Linked DNA regions of Homo sapiens: region 1 is linked to region 2. Evidence: fine-mapped expression QTL. A gene starts in region 2. The other region holds a variant in brackets. All regions are shown on one strand. Distances are between the middles of the regions. Region 1 has its middle 37 kb from the start of DUSP22. Region 2 holds the start of DUSP22 (dual specificity phosphatase 22).

What was found. PIP is the estimated chance that this variant, and not a neighbour inherited with it, causes the effect.
Region 1: its variant is fine-mapped to the expression of DUSP22 in whole blood (TOPMed, PIP 0.97).

The regions. Positions count from the first base shown.
Region 1 is chr6:249,922-260,377 of GRCh38, forward strand. No RefSeq gene overlaps it. Among named protein-coding and RNA genes, the nearest start is that of DUSP22, 37 kb to the right of the region's middle. RefSeq lists an enhancer at 2,203-2,272 and a silencer at 5,194-5,394. The variant A/G (reference allele first, on the strand shown) is at 4,154.
Region 2 is chr6:287,532-296,665 of GRCh38, forward strand. DUSP22 (dual specificity phosphatase 22) reads left to right here and starts at 4,956. Exons shown (of 7, transcript NM_001286555.3): 1 at 4,956-5,029. The coding sequence starts at 5,009. RefSeq lists enhancers at 3,919-4,208, 4,135-4,635, 4,636-5,136, 5,429-5,688, 9,116-9,134 and silencers at 4,319-5,338, 6,083-6,239, 6,119-6,178, 6,189-6,248.

The sequences.
Region 1 (10,456 bases), 37 kb before region 2:
TGCAATAAACATGGGCATGCAGACATCTCTTCAGTATAGTGATTTTCTTTCTTTTGGGTATATACCCAGCAGTGGGATTGCTGGATTCTAGGGTAGCTCTATTTGTCAAAATTGATTGGCCACAAACATAAGGATTTATTTCTGGACTCTAAATTCTCTTCCATTGATCTACATGTCCGGCTAGTACCACACTGTCTTGCTTACTGTCACTTTGTAGTAAGCTTTAAAATCAGGACGTGTGAGTCTTTCAACTTTGTTTTAATTTTTCAAGATTGTTCTGGTTATTCTTGGTGCCTTGCCTTTCCGTATGAATTGTATAATAAGCTTGTCAGTTTCTGCCGAAAAAAAAAAGCCAGCTGGGATAATGATAGGGATTATATTGAATCTGTAGATCAATTTGGGGAGTACTGCCGTCTTAACAATAAGTATTGAGTATTCCAATCTATGTTCATGAGATGTCTTCCATTAATTTAGATCCTCTGTAATTCTTCCAATGATGTTTTGTACTATAGTTTTCAGTGTAGAAGTCTTGAATTTTTTGGAAAAATCTATCCTTAAAATATTTTATTCTTTTTGATACTATTATAAATGGAACTATTTTCTTACTTTTATTTTCAAATTGTTCATTGCTAGTGTATAGAACCAACCGACTTTTGTATATTGATCTGCTACCCAGCAACCTTAATGAACTAATTTTATATGCCTAATAGTTTATTTTGTGGCATGCTTAGAATTTTTAATATTAGATCATGTCATCTACAAACAGAGATAGTTTTACTTCTTTCTTTCCCATCTGATGTCTTTCACTTTTCTTTCTTGTCTAATTGTCCTGGCTTGATCCTCCATTGCAATGTTGAATAGAAGTGGTGAGAGTGGACTTCCTTAGGGCAAAAACATTCTGTCTTTTACCACATGTGTAATGTTAGGTGTGGTTTGTTTGTAGATTCCCTTGATCAGGTGGAGGAAGTTCCCTTCTATTCTTAGTTTTTGTGTGTTTGTATTATGAAAGATTGTTAAATTTTGTAAAATGCTTTTTTTCCCATCTCTTCAGATGACTATGTGGTTTTGTTGTCATGCTATTAATACAGTGCATTACATTGACTGATTTTTCAAAGTTAAAGCATCCTTATCTTCTTTGGATGAATCTCATTGGATTCAGTTTGTGTTTTGTTGAGGATGTTTGTATTGATATGTATAAGGGATATTGGTTTGTACTTTTCTTATGATATCTTTGACTGGTTTTGGTATCAGGGTAATACTGGCGACATAGAATAAGGTGAAAAGTGTTTCCTCCTCTTCTCTTTTTAAGAGTTTATGAGAGGGTCCGGGCGTGGTGGCTCATGCTTGTAATCCCAGCACTTTGGGAGGCTGAGGCAGGCGGATCGCTTGAGGTTGAGAGTTCGAGACCAGCCTGACCAACATGGAGAAACCCCATCTCTACTAAAAATACAAAATTAGCCAGGTGTGGTGGCACATGCCTGTAATCCCAGCTACTCAGGAGGCTGAGGCAGGAGAATTGCTTGAACCCGGGAGGTGGAGGTTGCAGTGAGCCGAGATCACACCACTGCACTCCAGCCTGGGCAACAAGAGCGAAACTCCGTCTAAGGAAAAAAAAAAAAGTTTATGAGAGATTGTTGCTAATTCTGCATTTGATAGAATTCACCAATGAAGCCATGTGAGTCTGAGCTTTTTGGTAGGAAGTTTTTAATTACCAATTCAATCTCCTTACCTGCTACATGTCTATTCGTATTTCTTATTTACCCCTCTCTCGGCTTCAATAGTTTGTGTCTGGTATACACATGTTAAAATAAAAATGTTAATTTGAAGTTTCTCCCCATCCCTGTCATCTACCTATCCTCCTTATTACTTGGGCTCATCTCCTTGACAGCAACTATAGGAAAAACAAGAAAGCAAAAATATTATCTCTTTACATGCGACAGATTCCTTTGGATTTTGCTCCCCCATGGCTTCTTTTGATATGTTTGGTCTCCTAGCCCCTCCTCTTTAAAACTTCTCGACTCTAGAAAAACACAGAAGAAAAAGACTGAGCGAGAGAAAGAGAAAGATTGTTCTAGTGAGATTTGAATCCATTCTGTAGTGCCACATGGATAAAAAGTAGGCCTATCAAATGTCACAAATGGGCTTGACTCACTTGGCATCTCAAAGCCCTTATGACATGTAACTGCTAGCAAAGGTGTGATGATTCATATCTTCAGCAGAATTGAGAACATGAAACTCTACTTTGCCTTCCTCCTTAGAATTGTTCAGAGGAAATGTTATTTCTTCCCTGAAAGTTGGTTGCAAGTTTCTTTCCTTTCTTACTGAATGAAATGTCACATATATTGATAGATGACCACTTTCACACAGAGCTAGGTAAATAAGATTATGATTCTTATATTAATTCCAGAGTGATGATTTGATAAAGAGAGGAGATAATCCATCATTTCATCCTTGCAACAGAGGTCTCAATTTTGTTGTTATTAGAAGGAGATGAATTATTTTTTCTTTAATATACTTTAAAAAACAAAACCAACCACCATCAGCAACAAAAATACTCTCTAAACTTGTGTTTAAACTGCAGCGGAAAAAACTATTTTAGTGAACTTAGCATTTTCCTAGTATTACCTCACCTCAGGATTTGAGTTTTCCAATGACTGTGGCAGTGCCTTGTTATTTTTAGGGATTCGACAGCCTTTTCTGCAAACCGTCCCCTTAAACTCTCCCTCATCTACCTCTGCATTGTGATTATCTCATATATCAAAAAGTTTCTTTTTCTCTAAGATGAAGCTGGCTTATCTTTATTCAGTCTAGAAGATTTGATTGCACAGAAATGATCTAATAGTTGCCCACCGAAGGATTTCACTGCACCCGAACTCATTCAAAATGCTTCCTTAGTCAGTTTGTTCTTGTTTTCCTTCTAAGTTTTGCATGCTTCTTAAACCCTGTTTCAGAAAGTCAAAGAAACATACCTTCTCATTCATTTAAACAACACTGAAGGACCTGAAAAAGCCTGTCCTTAATTATTTCATAACTGAAACGAAAACAAATTTTAGCATGTCAGTCTGATCTTGTAAGCCATACACAGGAAACCCAAGGTCAGCGTAGAGTGTCTTATTCTAGAATGGTAAGCCAGGCATTATTGTTTCTATTATTCTATAAATTACAGCTGACATGCATGTATGACAGCTTAACACAGATATTAAACAGACCAAAGAGACTTTCAATTTCTACCTACAGTGACAGATTATTTATCTCAACAGGTAAAATCATAATAAATCCAAAACTCTTAGGGATGCCATGAAGTGTTTATTTTCTAGTTGGAGAGGAAATTATGTTGGCACCTTAATTACGCTTTATTTTACTGTTTCATTCATGGGCCTCGGTTGCACAGAATCAGATGACTCATAATTCTTGCTTCACCACACACTTCCCCACTGGCCCATGCACGGCCCTTTTCTATTAATTTACTCATTTATTTATTTCTAATAATACAAAAAAAACACCCACGGACCCACCACCCATCACCACTGATCCATAAGCCAGGACTATGAATTTTTTTTTTTTTTGAGACACAGTCTCACTCTGTCGCCCAGGCTGGAGGGCAGTGGCATGACCTCGGCTCACTGCAACCTCTGCCTCCCAGGCTCAAGCAATTCTCCTGCCTCAGCCTCCTGAGTAGCTGGGATTACAGGCATGCGCCATCACACCCGGCTAATTTTTGTGTTTTTAGTAGAGACAGGATTTCATCATGTTGGCCAGGCTGATCTCGAACTCCTGACGTCAGGTGATCCCCCCACCTCAGCCTCCCAAAGTGCTGGGATTACACACGTGAGCCACCATGCCCTGCCGGACAATGACAATTTAACTCAGATTTTCTGCTCCTTTGCGACCTTCTGTCCCTGCTTCGCCCCACCTGACTCGCAGGCTGGTAACTGTGACTCTAAATCCTTGTCCATCATTCCCTTGCCTCCCTTTTTAACGTGGGGTTTTCACTTTGTGTCTCCTGATTAACAAGCTGATTTATTTTGTTTTATTTTTAAGTCCCTCCCAGATCCCACTCAGATATGCCTTTCACATCTTTGTACTAGAGGGAATGGCTTGGCTCATCCATTTTGGGGAAATTAAGTCTTCATTTATTCATAATTAATTCTTC[A/G]TTTATTCAAACAGGGTTTAAGAAGCATGCAAAACCGGCAAGGGCAGAGAACAATCCCGTCTCAAGGGACAATAAAACCAAGAATCCTTTTGTGGGCTGTCTCGGTTGCCTCATACTGGTGTCTTCATGACACGCCAGCACGGGGCGGCTCCCCCATGGGCTGGATCATGTCTGTGGCTGGCCAAGCCCATGGTGAGCAGCATCAGGAATTTCCTTTCTGAGTGCTTTTCTGCATGATGGCTGAATTATGAATCTGTATTAAAGAGGTTTTAAAGAGGGGAGGTTGACTTTGGGGGCTTTTTGCCTTCTTGAGGTCAACGAAAGTTGGTTCGGCAGGAAGGGGGCATCCTGGGATAGTGGAAAGGACGTTGGATTTAGAGCTTAGAGACGTGAATTATAGCTTCAGTTCTGCAGCAGGTATAGCTGTGTGACCTTGAGCAAATGATTTCTACCTCACTGGACTCAGCCTCCTCTTCTGTAGAAGACACATTTGAACCAAATTATTTCTTTTTTGTTTGTTTGCTTTGTTTTTGAGAGAGGGTCTTGCTCTGTTGCCCAGGACTGGCACAATCACACAGCCCCTGACCTCCTGGGTTCAAGCGATCTTCCCATCTTGGCCTCTCAAGTAGCTGGGACTACAGACACACACCATCATGCCCAGCTATTTAATTTTTGTAGAAACAGGGTCTCACTATGTCGTCCCGGCTGGTCTTGAGCTCCTGGGCTCAAGCAATCCTCCCACCTCGGCCTCCCAAAATGCTAGATTTACAGACGTGAGCCGCTGCCCAGCCCCAGATGATTTCTAAGGATCCTATCAGAGAAGGAACTTGGGGAAAAAAATGAGTCAGGGTCTCATTGCGCTTCCTTCACTCATTTGGTTGTGAAGTCAACACGCATGCCATTGGGTTCCTACCATGTGCCAGGGATGCAGGAACTGAGGTCCTATCACTCTGTGAAGTACCATGTCCTGCAGTGTATTTCTCAGTCTGTCTGACTAAGTTGAGATCTGCTTATGAGCAAGGACACTGTCAAGCCTCGACTGGGACTAACTTAAGCAAAGGGGTAGATTTGCTGTAATACTACAGGAGTTGAAGTATTTCATAAAAGTCATAAGCAGGAATACAACTGGGCCTCAGTAAAAGGCTAGAGACATTACCCTGAATGTGGAGGGGAACCAGAAAGTCACTTCTCCGTTTCTGTTTCCATGTCTTTTTGGCAGCCTGCTTCATTCTTCACTTTGGCCATAGCTGCTACTTCATGGAAAATAGCCTCGACAACCACAGCATTTTATATACGAGACAAACTCTGTCTAAGTCTCCATTCTGAATTCCTAGGGAATAATTGTGATTCCCATTCCAATCCACTCTACTGTGGCCTGGCTGACGTGGAGGTTGGGGAGTTTAAGGTCAAACAATGGCCTTTCATCCTTCCACCATGAGAATGGGATGGGAGAGACACGCCTGGGAAGGTTTCATGTCCTCCAGCTCCGGTAGGGCCTGTGATCAGCGCTGGTTTGCTCATCTCTCTGTGCCTGGTGCTAGCCCAGAGTGGGTACTCAGAACCTGCATTCTGAATGAATGAACGTGTGAATACAATCAAGTAAGAGTGAAATTATAGGTAAAGAAAAACATACCAAGTGAACCCCACTCTTGGCTTTAAGAGGAAATTAAAAGAATATTAGCAGAAGAGAATAAGTCACACAATTTTGAAACAGAGCTTCCTGGAAGGCATGAAACTCGACACGTGACACTGTGCATTCACAGTTTACAGCCATGTGTTAGTATCTTACAATACAGAGAACGCGTGTGTGTTTTCTTATAAGGTATCAAACAAGTAGGAAGTGATGACGGAATGACTTCTCTTTTGAGTTTTCAGTGACTTAGAAGTCTTTCTCAGAGCTTTTCATGTCCATTTCAAAATACTGATATCAACAAAGAACGACCAATGAGGACAGAGAGGCCCGTTTGCATTCTCGTAGCCATGACCCTAAAATCCAAAGAAAGTTTCTAATGGAGAATCGTGGCATTTTAGAGCTAAAGTGAGCCTGTCCCAGCATCTTGTTCTTTGCCCTAACTTTACAAAAGAGGTTAAACTACTTGCTGCCAGCTAGAGACAGAGGGGACCCCTGGCTCAGTGTTTTGGAGAATCTTGAGCTTCAGTTGTCACCAAAGCCATGTGTGGATGACCTCAAAAGCTGCGCCTGATTTGTGCGTGAACACCTCATTCTCCCAGCCCTGGCTAACAAGAGCTACGTCAAAGTTAGGATGCATGGGTCTGAGCCTTGCTAGCCCGGAGTCAGGGCCCCAAAGAGGTCACAGGTTTATATTGACACTGTCTCCCAGGCAGGCAGCACATGGAGACATAGTGGTGGGAGAGTGGGAGAGATGTCTTTTTTTTTTTTTTTTTTCGAGACAGAGTCCTGTTCTTGTCGCCCAGGCCGGACTGCAGTGGTGTGATCTGGGCTCACTGCAACCTCGGCCTCCCGGGTTCAAGCGATTCTCCTGCCTTAGCGTCCCAGGTAGCTGGGATTACAGGCATGCGCCACCACACTTGACTAATTTTTGTATTTTAGTAGAGTCAGTGTTTCACCATGTTGGCCAGGCTGGTCTCAAACTCCTGACCTCAGGTGATCTCCCTGCCTCAGCCTCCTAAAGTGCTGGGATTACAGGCGTGAGCCACTGTGCCCAGCCGAGAGCTGTTATAATTTATGTCAAATTGTATTTGTTTGATATATGCTTCTATAAATTTGTTCCATAATTTTGTTTAATATTAAATTATATTTAACATACATTATACACACACTTTTGTGACAGTGTTATACTTTCCATAATTTATCTATTTCATATCTCATGGGGACTTTTTAAAGAAAGGAATCTTTGACATTGAAAAAATGTAAGCTGATCATGATCTTAAATCAAGTCTAAAATTTTAACTTAGATCTAAAATTCCTTGAAGAATAAAGTTTGTAAGAAATTTCTCAGCATGACAATTCCACTCGTGTTATTGAAGGACAACATATCCATTTACAAAGTCAACACATTTTCCTCTAAAACACTAAATGTGTGCTAGAAAAAAATACTTCCTGGAGGAGCGGCTTCCTTTTTGAAATAACTTCATCTTTTTCTGACTGCCTTTGGTTGACTAATCATGAAAAATCTCCCCTTGATGTGGCAATTCTAATTCTGACGCCATCTCCATGGGGAAAAGAAAACTTCCAATTTTTCTTTAAGAGGAAGTCAGTGCCTCAGACAGATAATCACTTCCCTGGAAGAACATCTCCTCACAAGCGGATTTTTTTAAGTTTAAGAAGTTAACTTTGTAATGTTTAAAAATGAAAACTGCTAGATTTGACAAGCTTAGGAGGGAAGCTCAGTATACCTTCATCCGTACTCATTGGGCTGATTGCTTAGTTCGGGCCTCAGGTGGGAACGGGAAGTGCTAATTAGGCTTCCATGAAGACACCCACACTGACAAGCATGCATCCAAGTCCTCCGCTTCTCCAGAACTAAACCTGGTATACCTTGATTTCAGCCTTGCCAAAGCCCTGCAGAACTATTATGTAAGGGAATTGGCTAATCTTTATTTGCTCACTTTTAAATGTCTTTTGTGCCTAAGGAAAATCAAACCCATTGTTGTTGGGGTTTGAGAAGGTAAATTTACCACACCTCTGCCAGTTACAGCTTTAAGACCAGGTACAGAAAGCAGATATAAGTCAGTGTATTGGCTTTATTTCTGGTAAGGCTGGGTTAAAAAACCTCCACTTGGACCCAAGGTCTGAATGGTTTTCCACTGAACTTAACCAGGCCCACCCACCCACAGGCAGGACAGCTGTGGGCCTCTCCCCACAAGGGCTGCACCTGGCTCCTTGGGCTCACCCCATGGAGGAGAGGAGGGCAGGTGCATCCTGTGACCAGGCTGTTCTAAAAAATGATGAGAGAGACAGAAAGCACACCAAGGAGAGGGGAGTGGTGAACCTTTACACAGTGACCCCAACCCTTAATGAGCAGCAGAATTAGTCATCTATACTGAAGAGTTAGAAAGGGGTAAGGAGAAGAAAAAAGTTATTTCCAATGTCTGAAAGGTCGGGCATTTCCTTTTCCTTGGCAGAGGCAGGAGCAGGTGGGGACAAGAGAATAGGTCTCCCTTTGGTTGGTCACTCCAGTGGGTCACTGCAAATGCTGTTGTGCACACTAGGCTTTGCTGAGTGTAGCTTTGCCCATAGGGCATCAAAATTTGAAAGCCCAGAAAAAGTTTTATTTGATTTTATAATTTCAACTAGTATTTTAGATTCAAGATGTACATGTGCATGTTTGTTGCATGGGTTTATTGCATGATGCTAAGGCTTGGGGGCGTGAATGATCTCGTCACACAAGTAGTAAGCATAGCACCCAACTTAGTTTTTCAGCCTTGTCCCCATCTCTCTCTCCTGCCTCTAGTAGTCCTCAGTGTCTAGTGTTTCCATCTTTATGTCCATGTGTACCCAATGCCCAGTGCTTAGCTCCCACTTATAAGTGAGAACATGCAGTGTTTGGTTTTCTATTCCTGTGTTAATTAATTCACTTAGGATAATGACCTCCAGCTGCAAAGGACATTTTTTTTTTTTTTTGATAGAGGTAAGATTGTGCTCTGTCACTCACTGCAGCCTTGACCTCCTGGACTCAAGCAACTCTCCTGCTTCAGCCTCTTGAGTAGCTAAGACTACAGGTGCATGCCACCACACTTGCCTGAGTTTTTATTTTTTACTTTTGTAGTGACAGGGTCTTGCTATGTTGTCCAGACTGGTCTCAAGCTCTTGGCTCCAAGTGGTCCTTCCGCCTTGGCCTCCCAAAGTGCTGGGATTACAGGTGTGAACCATTGCACCTGGCCAAGCTCATTCTTTTTTATGGCTGCATAATATTCCATGAAGTATATGTACCACATTTTTTTAATCTGCTCCACAGTTGATGGACACCTAGGTTGATTCTATGTCTTTGCTATTGTGAATAGGGCTGTGATGAAGTTTTAAATGATCATTTGAAAACTCTTGTGAAAGCCACTGTATCTCACTTCTTCAATAAACACTCTGTTCCCAGTACTGCCAGCATGGTCCCACCAACAGAGGCAATGAGCTGAGCTCCAACCTCAGACCAGGATAGGCACCAGCAAAGATGAACAGGACTGGGGACCCAGTACCCCTCTGTGGGCATGGGGGCACGCAATCGCTTCCTCCTCCCCTCTTCCCTTTCCCTGCTGCTGACACTGGTGCCTCTTTTGTTTTGGGAGTCTTTCCATGTTGCTTGTCCCTAACATCAAAATTACAAGCTAAGAAGCTGAAGACAGAGGATTTCTTTCAAATTAGTGTTAGAATTCTTTCAACGGTTATTTATTGAGCACTTACTATATGCTATTGTAGTAGCTAGGCATGCAGCACTAAACAAAATAGAATTTACATTCTGGTGGAAAGAAACTGCGGTGACCAAGTAATTAATCTTTGGAGAGAATTTCACGTATGTGTGCATTTGCCTTTTATGTGCTTCCACATAAATCAAGCTTGTCCAACCCATGGCCCATGGGCCACACGCAGTCCAGGATGGCTTTGAATGCGGCCCAACACAAGCTTGTAAACTTTCTTAAAACATTATGAGATTTTTTAATTTATTGGCAATTTTTTTTAGCTCATCAACTATAGTTAGTGTATTTCATGTGTGCCCCAAGACAATTCTTCTTCCAATGTGGTCTAGGGAAGCCAAAAGATTGGACACCCCTGCATAAATCAACATATTTATAAGGCACATTACAGTTACTTTGAGGATTCTCATTGAGACAGTTCCTCAAGGGACAATTATTATAAGAAGGCATAGGTGACAAATCACAAACACCAACAAAATTTACACAATGGATTTATTGACCATCTAGGCTGTGCAAGAGACACTTTCGTTTTAAGGCTTACTATATTGCAGGAAGCATATTACAACCACAAACTGAGTGCTCTTTAATGGTCAAAAATAAACCCCAAACTTACATCTTTGTTTCGTTTTAACCAGGTAGCTAAAAAGCAAAAATGAAAGTTTAGATAAATTTTTATTGTGGTAAAAGATACGTAACATAAAATATACCATTTTAACAATTTTTAAGTGTACAGTTCAGTGGCATTAATCGCATTCACATTGTAGTGCAACCATCACCACTCTCCATTGCCAGGACTTTTTTCATCTTTCTGAACTGAAACTCTAACTAATAAACAATAACTCCTCCTTCCCTCCACATTCTTGCCCCTAACAACGACCATTCTGCTTTCTGTCTGTGAATTTGCCTGACACAGGT
Region 2 (9,134 bases):
GGGAAGTAGATGGGCCAAGTCAGACCATTCCACACACGGAAAATGAACACAAGCAACTTCCATGATGGCCATGCATAAGTCAGGCATGGTTTCTTACCAAAGATCAAAAAACAACATGATGCCAAGAGGCAGAACCACAGAGAGTCTTGTGCTCTGCCAAGTACGGCTATGGCTGTAGACCAAGGGGTGGAGTACAGCAATACACGGAAGCATTGTGTGCAAGGACTCTCTCCTCTCTCTCCTCTCTCTCTCCTCTCTCTTTCTCTCTCTCTCTGTTGAGTGTGCCCTATATCTGTTTCAGAAACAAAAGACAACAGGATTCTGGTTACTCCTAGAGAGCCATCTCACATGGAAACTACATTGCTCAAGAAAAGGAAACATGAGGAGATGCAGTATTGATGGAGTCTCTGGCATATCAAAGGATGAATTATTTGTGATCCTTATGCCTGGACAAATTCAACAGCCTCCCAGATGTATTTCTTTCCTAAATCAACAAACATCTACATAGTTCCCCACACACTAGGGACTATCTTAGATGCTGGATACTGAGATTGATTAACAACTGGTCCCTGCCCTCAGGCAGCTACCATTTGGGGGAAAACAACAGTTGTCCTGAGAATACACAGGCATGTATGTTCTGACCTGCAGGCTGATAATAATGTGACCTCCAAATTTTAGGAACCAGGGCTCTGTCTTATTTCCCCTTTGCTTGGCACTGTTTTATAATCTGCCTGATAACTTCATTCCTGCAAGCCTCTGCCAATCCTCCCAGGAACTCTGTCCACAGACTTTTGTTGACTCCCAACTAAATGCCTGAGAACATTTTCCCTTTACCTGCTCCCAGATTCTCTGCCCTCCCAGTCATTTACCTGGATATCCATTCCTCTTGCTGCTCTTCCCTGACCCCACACTCTCCAGATATCCGTGCTGAGATCTGAGCCCCGCAAATCTCTTCAGCGAAAGGAGGAAACCACGTTCATAATTAGAAGACTGCTTGGAAGGCTGGAAATTGTGACCTTTGAAGAGTTGAGGTCGTATACCACAGGGGCCCATCCTCATGGTCAGGCTGTTCTGCATGGCCTTGAGAACTCAGGTATTCAACTGGGCAGCCTCTCTCTGGACAATGCTGGAGAAACAGAGAAAATGTTTTGTGCTTTTGCTTCCGTAGTTCCAGGTTCCACCTTTTTTCTTCTTTCCACAATTCATTAGATTCTCACTTTCTTTTACTTTTAGTCAGGCTTTGGCTAGATTAGATCTTCATTTTAACTTCTTGTTCTCAATTTGTTAATAATGAACAATTGTGGCTTAAGAATTCTGCAGAGAACTAACATGATCTATTAGTGTAGATTTAGCTGGTTATTGAGGAGAGGGGGTTGGAGACATTTCTGATTGTCATGACTGAGAGGGTGCTACTGAAATGTAATGAGCACAAGTCAGAGATGCTTCTGAACATTCTGCAGTGCACAGGACAGCCTTCTAGAGCAAAAATGTATCCAGCCTCAAATGTCAGTTTTGCCGAGGTTGAGAAACCCTGGACTGCAATATGTTCAAGAGGCCAGTGAAGATTACATAATTACTTCTCTGTTGGATAGAGGTTAATCTTGATGCTCTGAAATTATCACTAACACCTATAATGATTTGGCTAACTCTAATGGTTGAGCTTCTGCTTGCGGGCTTTTAAACACCGCCACCTTAAAGTTTAAGGTTACTGCTCACTAAATACACTATTAACCAGTTATCCTTAACCATGTGTAAGTATGGACTCAGCTATCCTACACACTCTGTAGACCATTCCTTATTGTGCACACATGAAGGCTTGACTTCTTTCGGAGTTGTTGCCAAAATTTGTGATGTTGGCAGAACTGAGAGGAAGAAAATAACAAGAAGAAAAGTGGAAGTAAAAATCTTACATAGTGTGAAAATCCACCAGGCTTGTGATGCCTTAAAATTTTTATGAGTGAGATAAAGCACAAATGAATAGAGATTCTACTATGGATGTGAAATACGCCAGCTTTGTTGAAGTGTTTCCCTTCTTCCTTTCTTTCCATAATCAAGAGCTAGAGAGTAAAAGTCATAGAACTGCAAGACATGAACAACTGGGAATTATTATTGTAATAAAGAGAGGTGTTCAGGGTTAGGGTGGAGGAGAGTACAGCAAGTCTCTTGTGGGAAACCCCCCAACCCCACAGAATCAATAATTTTTTTTTTTTTGAGACGGAGTCTTGCTCTGTTGCCCAGGCAGAAGTGCAGTGGCACAATCTTGGCTCACTGCAGCCTCTGCCTCCTGGGTTCCAGCGATTCTCCTGCCTCAGCCTCCCGGGTAGCTGGGATTACAGGCACACGCCACCACGCCCGGCTAATGTTTGTATTTTCAGTAGAGACGGGATTTTGCCATGTTGGCCAGGCTGGTCGAGAACTCCTGACCTTAGGTGATCGGCCCGCCTCGGCCTCCCAAAGTGCTGGGATTACAGGCTTGAGCCACCACGCCCAGCCAAAACCAATAATTTTTTTTTTTTTAAATCTTACTCTTCTGACTTCTGGTGTTAATAGTCTCCTCTTTTCCTATTTAACCCAAAAGAAAAATTTGAGATTTTGATAGGAACTCTGGGCATGTGGACCTTTTAGGCCATACTGAATGCTGATTTTGACGGTAAGGAGGAAGCCATGGCAGGTTCTGAGTTTAGGGGGAAAAGCAGATGGTCCAAGCTGGAGAAATATATCTACAAGAAGAGTATGAATAAGAGAGAAATATTGCAAGTGGATGACAGAAGAAAAAAATCAGTATGAATTTGTCATTCATGGTCAAGTACCAGTTTATGAACTGGTTGTGTTCTTAAACGTTCATCTGACTGTTGGATGAATGGCCCAAGGAGGGCAGAAGGCTGCAGAAGTAATTCATTGGTTGCTGGATAGAAGCTTCAAAAATTCACAGTTTAATGCTCTTGTTTTAAAGAGAAAAAAAAAGCTAGCTCAGAAAAGTTGATCATCTTGCTCAAGACCTCCTTAAGAATTAGAAATAGAGGCTGATTACTGGGATTCCCCAGGCAGTCCACTAACGATTCTGTGTTGTCTCTAAGCAGGAAGGTGGTAAAAACAGTTACTTAATGGCAGTGTGTGGCAGAGGGGAAAGGGCAGGCTGTCCAGGTGACTGAGAAGCAGGCGGGAGAAGAGGAAGTGAAGGCAGTGAAGAAGGAACACTCTCCCAAAACAAGAGGCAGAAAGGGCACTCCGGGTCTGGGTCCCATTCTACCTAGAGAAAACATGCAAGCGCATATTGATTGAGGGCTTTCTACACGGGGGGTTTTGATACCATTTGTTGCCCAGAAGATATGGGGTACAAGTACAGAAATGGCGACAGATGGAGTCTACAAGCTCTTTCCAAACGTTCACATTCCTCAGAACCTCACCCGTTTTCTCGGCCACAAGAAATTATTAATTTATTTGACAAATATTTTAAAAATCACTATTTTGTGCTAGATTTTGTCCCAGGCCACATGGCTGTATTACTGAATAAGACAACTTTTTTTTTTTTTTTAATCTGAAAGTTGCTGGCTAGTGAGACAGATAAAAAGAAAGCAAATACATGTATTTCCGATCAATAATACGGAGTAATATGATAGTGACTGGAGGACCAACCTGGAATTGGGTGGTTAGGAAAAGCCTCTTAGGAGAGATGGCATTTGGGCTGATACCTCAGCGATAACAGGCAGGTATGCAGAGAGCTGGGGATCCAGGTGTCTGGATAGAGAGCACAGCCCAGCAAGCCTGACAGGCTCAAGGAACAGACAGGAGACCAGCATGTGTGTAACTCGCTTAGCAAGAAGATAAAATGAAGTCAGCAGGGGTGAGCCAGGGCACGTCAGATTGACGCATGTACTCATTCAGCAAATATTTATTAAGCACCTACTATGTTCAGGACATTGTTGAGGATACATAAATTAAGAAGAAAAACCACTGGCTCAAGGATTCTGTCGCTGGAGAGAAACTTCAGAGTTTAATAACGTTGATAGAACACCCAAAACAATTCTGCTACAGTTTAGAAATTGATCCATTCCAGACAGAACCACAATGCAGACATTAAGGGACACACATCATCTAAGGCCGTGAGGTCTGAGGTCAGAGATCCAGCCATCTGCTCCCCCAGGGTAGGGAGGTCGGGCCTCCCCGGGGTGAGTCACGTAGCCCACCTCTCCCCACCAGGCGAGGCTTCTCGGTCTTGGTGCATGGGGCAGGGCCGCAGGAAATCCCCCAGCCTAAATCTGCCGCACTCAGAAAACCCAGGCAGGGGAGCCCCCAGAGACCAGGCCTCTGATTAGCACCTGATTCACGGAGGCAGCCAAGGCTGGGTAGCGACTGCTGGTAACTGGCCCCCGGAGTCGCCCCAGGGGAAAAGGCCAAAGGGGGATCTGGAGACCCCCGGCCGGGGAGCGGGCTCCGAGACGAGCGCAGCCGCCCGGTCAGGGCAGCGCCTGCGCGTCCGCCAGGCCCCGCCGCGCAGCCTCGGGTGTCCCGGCGGGGCGGCTCGGGCCGCGCACGCGCTCTGGCCTCCGGGGCCGGCCGCCTGGGAGCCCGAGCCTAGTGCCTCCCACGCCCGGCGGCCGCGAGCCGGGGTCCGCGAGGGCGGAGTGGGGCGCGGCAGCCAGGAACCCGACTACGAATCCCAGGGTGCGGGCGGGCGGAGCGAGGAGGGACGCTGGGCCTGCCCGGTGCGCACGGGGGCGGGGACCGGCAAGGCGGGACCATTTCCCGGCATAGGCTCCGGTGCCCCTGCCCGGCTCCCGCCGGGAAGTTCTAGGCCGCCGCACAGAAAGCCCTGCCCTCCACGCCGGGTCTCTGGAGCGCCCTGGGTTGCCCGGCCGGTCCCTGCCGCTGACTTGTTGACACTGCGAGCACTCAGTCCCTCCCGCGCGCCTCCTCCCCGCCCGCCCCGCCGCTCCTCCTCCCTGTAACATGCCATAGTGCGCCTGCGACCACACGGCCGGGGCGCTAGCGTTCGCCTTCAGCCACCATGGGGAATGGGATGAACAAGGTAACGTCTTCCCTCGTTCGCGCTGGGTTTGCCTCCGCTCCGACGCCCTGCCGTCTCGCCGGCGTCGGCTGCCCGACGACTCGAGCCCGGGGTGCCCTTTCCCGCGGTGGGGACGGGCGCGGAGGGAGGGGCGGCGCGCCTGGGCGGCGACCGCGGAGTCGGGGTTCGGAGGTGTTCCCGCCCCCACCCCACCCGGCTTCCGGGTAGGCAGCCCCCAGCCGCCTGCCTTGCCAGCCGGTGCGTTTTCGTGGCTGAAACAAGCCGCGCCCTTTGAAAGCGTTGACACTTGTTCTGCCGAGAGGTCAGCTGAGCTCCGAATGGATGTGGCTTCTTTTTTGCCCTCCTCTTCGCTCCCAAACTACGCTCTTGAAGCCACCACCGCCCCCCCCACATCATTAGTAAACGGGTGTCCTCTGTAATTTCCTCTTTCTCCTCAGATTCTGTGTGTGTGCCTGTGAGCACAGAGAAGTTTTTCTTGTGGACAGAGAAGTTAACAGAGTCCTAAGTCCTGAGCTGTTTCTAGATAGTGGGGAGGAGAGAAAAGATTCAGAGTTGATTAGGTTATGTGACTTCTGCAACAAGGGCAACCTGTTGCTGGCTGCTTGCGCTGATGAGGCCTTCTGGAAAATCTGTGTTGCTCCATTTGTCCCGTCCGTTTCTGGGCCCCACCCTGTGTTCTTTTGTTGCCCGCACCTCACTTCCCGGGCGGTGGGCTAGCCTTTCCCGTCCAGGGAAGTTGCCAGATTCCAGCTCTGGCAGCTGAGAGTTGCCGGGGTGTATTCATGTGAACCACAGGGTTAAGGATTTTGTTACTTGGTACTTGGCTGGTTTCGAGGAAGGATTGACAAGACTTTACAAAGCCCGCAACAAAGACAAGTACCTTTTTACGGGTCTTTGAATGGTCCTGGATTAGATGAGTCGTCTTTCTGCTTCACTTTTTCATTGCGCTCCACCCACCCACATCTCTACATGCCGTCAGCTTCCACACTGGGTGGGGATGGCAATGTGGCTGTGTTTTTTTTCATGTCCCTCAGCACTGGGTCAGCAGTGGTTTGGGTGTTGGGGCTGGAGTGTTGCAAATGCGGATTCACGGTAGGGCAGGGAAAACCTAGCTAACTTTTCACGTGCGCATGTCGTGTTTATTGTGTCCTGGTTACCCAGTTTGTGAAAGAACTATTGTGTGTTTGGGACCTGCATATCAATACTGGGGTATTTTGGTAAAGAGAATTGTATTCACTTTTTTTTTTTTTTTTTTTTTGGCGAGTGATCAAGTTTGGAAACAGACTGTCTCTCTCTTGGATAAATACTTGTATTATATTCCGATGAGCACTGGAATCCATCAGCACCACGAGCCTTCTGCTTTTTAAATTAAAACAGAACAATAAAGATGGTCATCATAAGTCTGTGGGCTCCGTTTGCCTTCCCATTGGTGGTGGTATCTCAGCTTTCCTTTGGCTGTTTCTAGTTTTCCCACTTGAGCTGTTCACTCTCCACCGTTTTCAGCATTTAATTTATAGTATTTGTGTAATACAATTCAAAAAATATATTTAGGAATACAGATGGTTGCCTAAGGGATCAACGTTATTTTCATGCTTTTCAACAAAAGCAGTAATATTCATATACTTTTTACCTTTCAAAATGGGTAATAAATTTCTTGACTTTTATTATCTTGTGAATAGAGACTCACAGTGTATCAATGAAGAAATACATGTATAGAGAGATTTAGAGACTTCCCTGCTTCAACACTTATTGATTATGTACATACTATGAGCCAGGTGTTGTGCTAGTGGGTGGGGAGGGGGCAAAGGGAGTACAGTGGTAAATGACCCAAAGATTCTTCACAGAACCTTCAGTACAGGTCAGCATTGTCCAGCACTAATATGATGCGAGCTATATATGTAACTTAAAATGTTCCGGTAGCCACATTAAAAAATAAACCGGTGAAATTAATTTTAATAATATATTTTATTTAACAATATATTAAAACTATTGTTTCAACATGTAACCAATATATAAAGTTATTCATGGAAGATTCCATGTTTTTTACTATGTCTTTGTGAAAGGAAAAATCTCGGGACCCCCAGATCACTTAACCTTCAAAGTCTAGTGTGTATTTTATGCCTAAATCACATCTCATTTTGGACTAGCCACATTTGGAGTACTCGATAGTCACTGTGGCTAATGGCTGCTGTGTTGCACAACACAGGGTGTGTATGTGTGTGGGGGTGAGAGAGAGAACAAACACAAGGTAGGGAGGAGTAGAGGCTCCAGAGGATAAAATAGGCAATTTCAGAAAAGTGGGGAAAGCAGAAGATGGGATGAAAGTGACCTAGAAGGGGCATTCAGCCCAGGCAAGGAATCCTGCTGCAGTAAACATGTTTAACGTGAGATCAGGAGGAACTACCCCAAATCACAAGGTTCATTAGTGGCAAAGTAGATCGCAGGAGGCCAGTAACTTAAGAACCTTAACTAGAACTTTTCCATATATTACTGTGTGACTTGGAACGAGGCTTCATCTGTAAAAAAAGAAGAATGGTTGATTTGCAGAATCAGCGGAAGGTGCTACCCCTAGAAATCCTTTTCTAAGAACATTTATAAATATGTGCAATGTCTTTGGAACTAACATAACTTGGAATGTGTGTGCCCTGAGGTTACTGGGACAAGATTTCTTTCCAATCTCGTACACATTGGTCATTTTTGGCAAAAGAGCATTTCTGGTCTAAACAGTGCACGCTGCATTCTGAGTGCTTTGGGACAGCAGTTTTTATCATTCACATCCCTGTGGTGGCTCTTCTTGTCGGTCCGTTCCGGGCTCCTGTACGGCGGAATATTGTGCCCGTTTCCGTTAGGTGTACGCAGCAGATTATACAGAAGATGGAGGGGAAAAAGGCTTTTATATTCTAGAAAATTAAAGATGAGGAAATAAAGACAGGACTGGGCGTGGTGGCTCGTGCCTGTAATCACAGCACTTTGGGAGATTGAGGCAGGTGGACTGCTTGAGTCCAGGAGTTTAGAACCAGCCTGGGCAACATGGCAAAACCCTGTTTCTACCAAAAATACAAAAAAAAAACCCACAAAAACAAAGCAATCAGCCGAGTGTGTGGTGGCTTGTGCCTGTAGTCCCAGCTACTTGGGAGGCTGAGGTGGGAGAATCACCTCAGCCCGGGAAGTCTAGGCTGGAGCGAGTCGTGATTGTGCCACCGCACTCCAGCCTGAGCGACAGAGCGAGACCCTGTTTCAAAAAAAAAAAAAAAAAAACCCAACAACAACACAGTTGTGAACCATTTTTTTTAACACTTTATAAAATCTCAGCCTCACGGTAGCCCTATGAGGTCAAACGACCTTATATTTGCCCAGATTGGGGAATGGAGATTTGGAGAGGTTAGGTAGCATAAGTAATGCCAGGCAGGGCAGAACCCAGTCTCCACTGATTTTGAAGATAGGAAAAGTCTTTCCTTTGAGCTGAGATGCTAATTCATCCCAAGTAAGTTTTAAAATTCCTAAAAAGTAACTTGAAAAGCTCCTCATAGCTTCGATTACTTGTCAAATAGCCAAAATCACCTCCTCTCTTCCTTTATGTTTGACATTGATAAGGAAGGGGGTAATTACAGGCAAGAAACTAAAACTTTTTTTTTATTGTTTTTGTTTGTGTGTGCAATTCCTAGGTAGATGCCCCACACTGGCCAAAATTATAATTGCCAATGAGTTTATGGTGTGTTTTGAGTACTTTACCACATAGAGTAAGCCACAACTCCATGAAGTAGATCCTGTTATTTTCATGCCTGTTTTCTGGTTGTACACAGAGGCTAAGGGAACTGCCAGGGTCACCCAGCTGGTGAGTAGCAGAGCCTGGACTCAAAGCCACAGTCTGGCTCGGCCACAATGCAGAGTGCCTCACCACGCTGCTAAGATATTAGTCTAGTAAATGTCTCTGGTAAGATTAGGGTTAAACTAAACAGGGTGTTGCATGCAAATGTCGTGTTCCTGTGGAGCCTTTGAAAACTCCTAGTTGACTCAAAGTTCTCTCGAGTCTGAACCCTCAAATCTTTTGGGGGAGAGCCTATAAACAAAACTCCTATCCTCACTGTCTACTTATTAGTCTTCA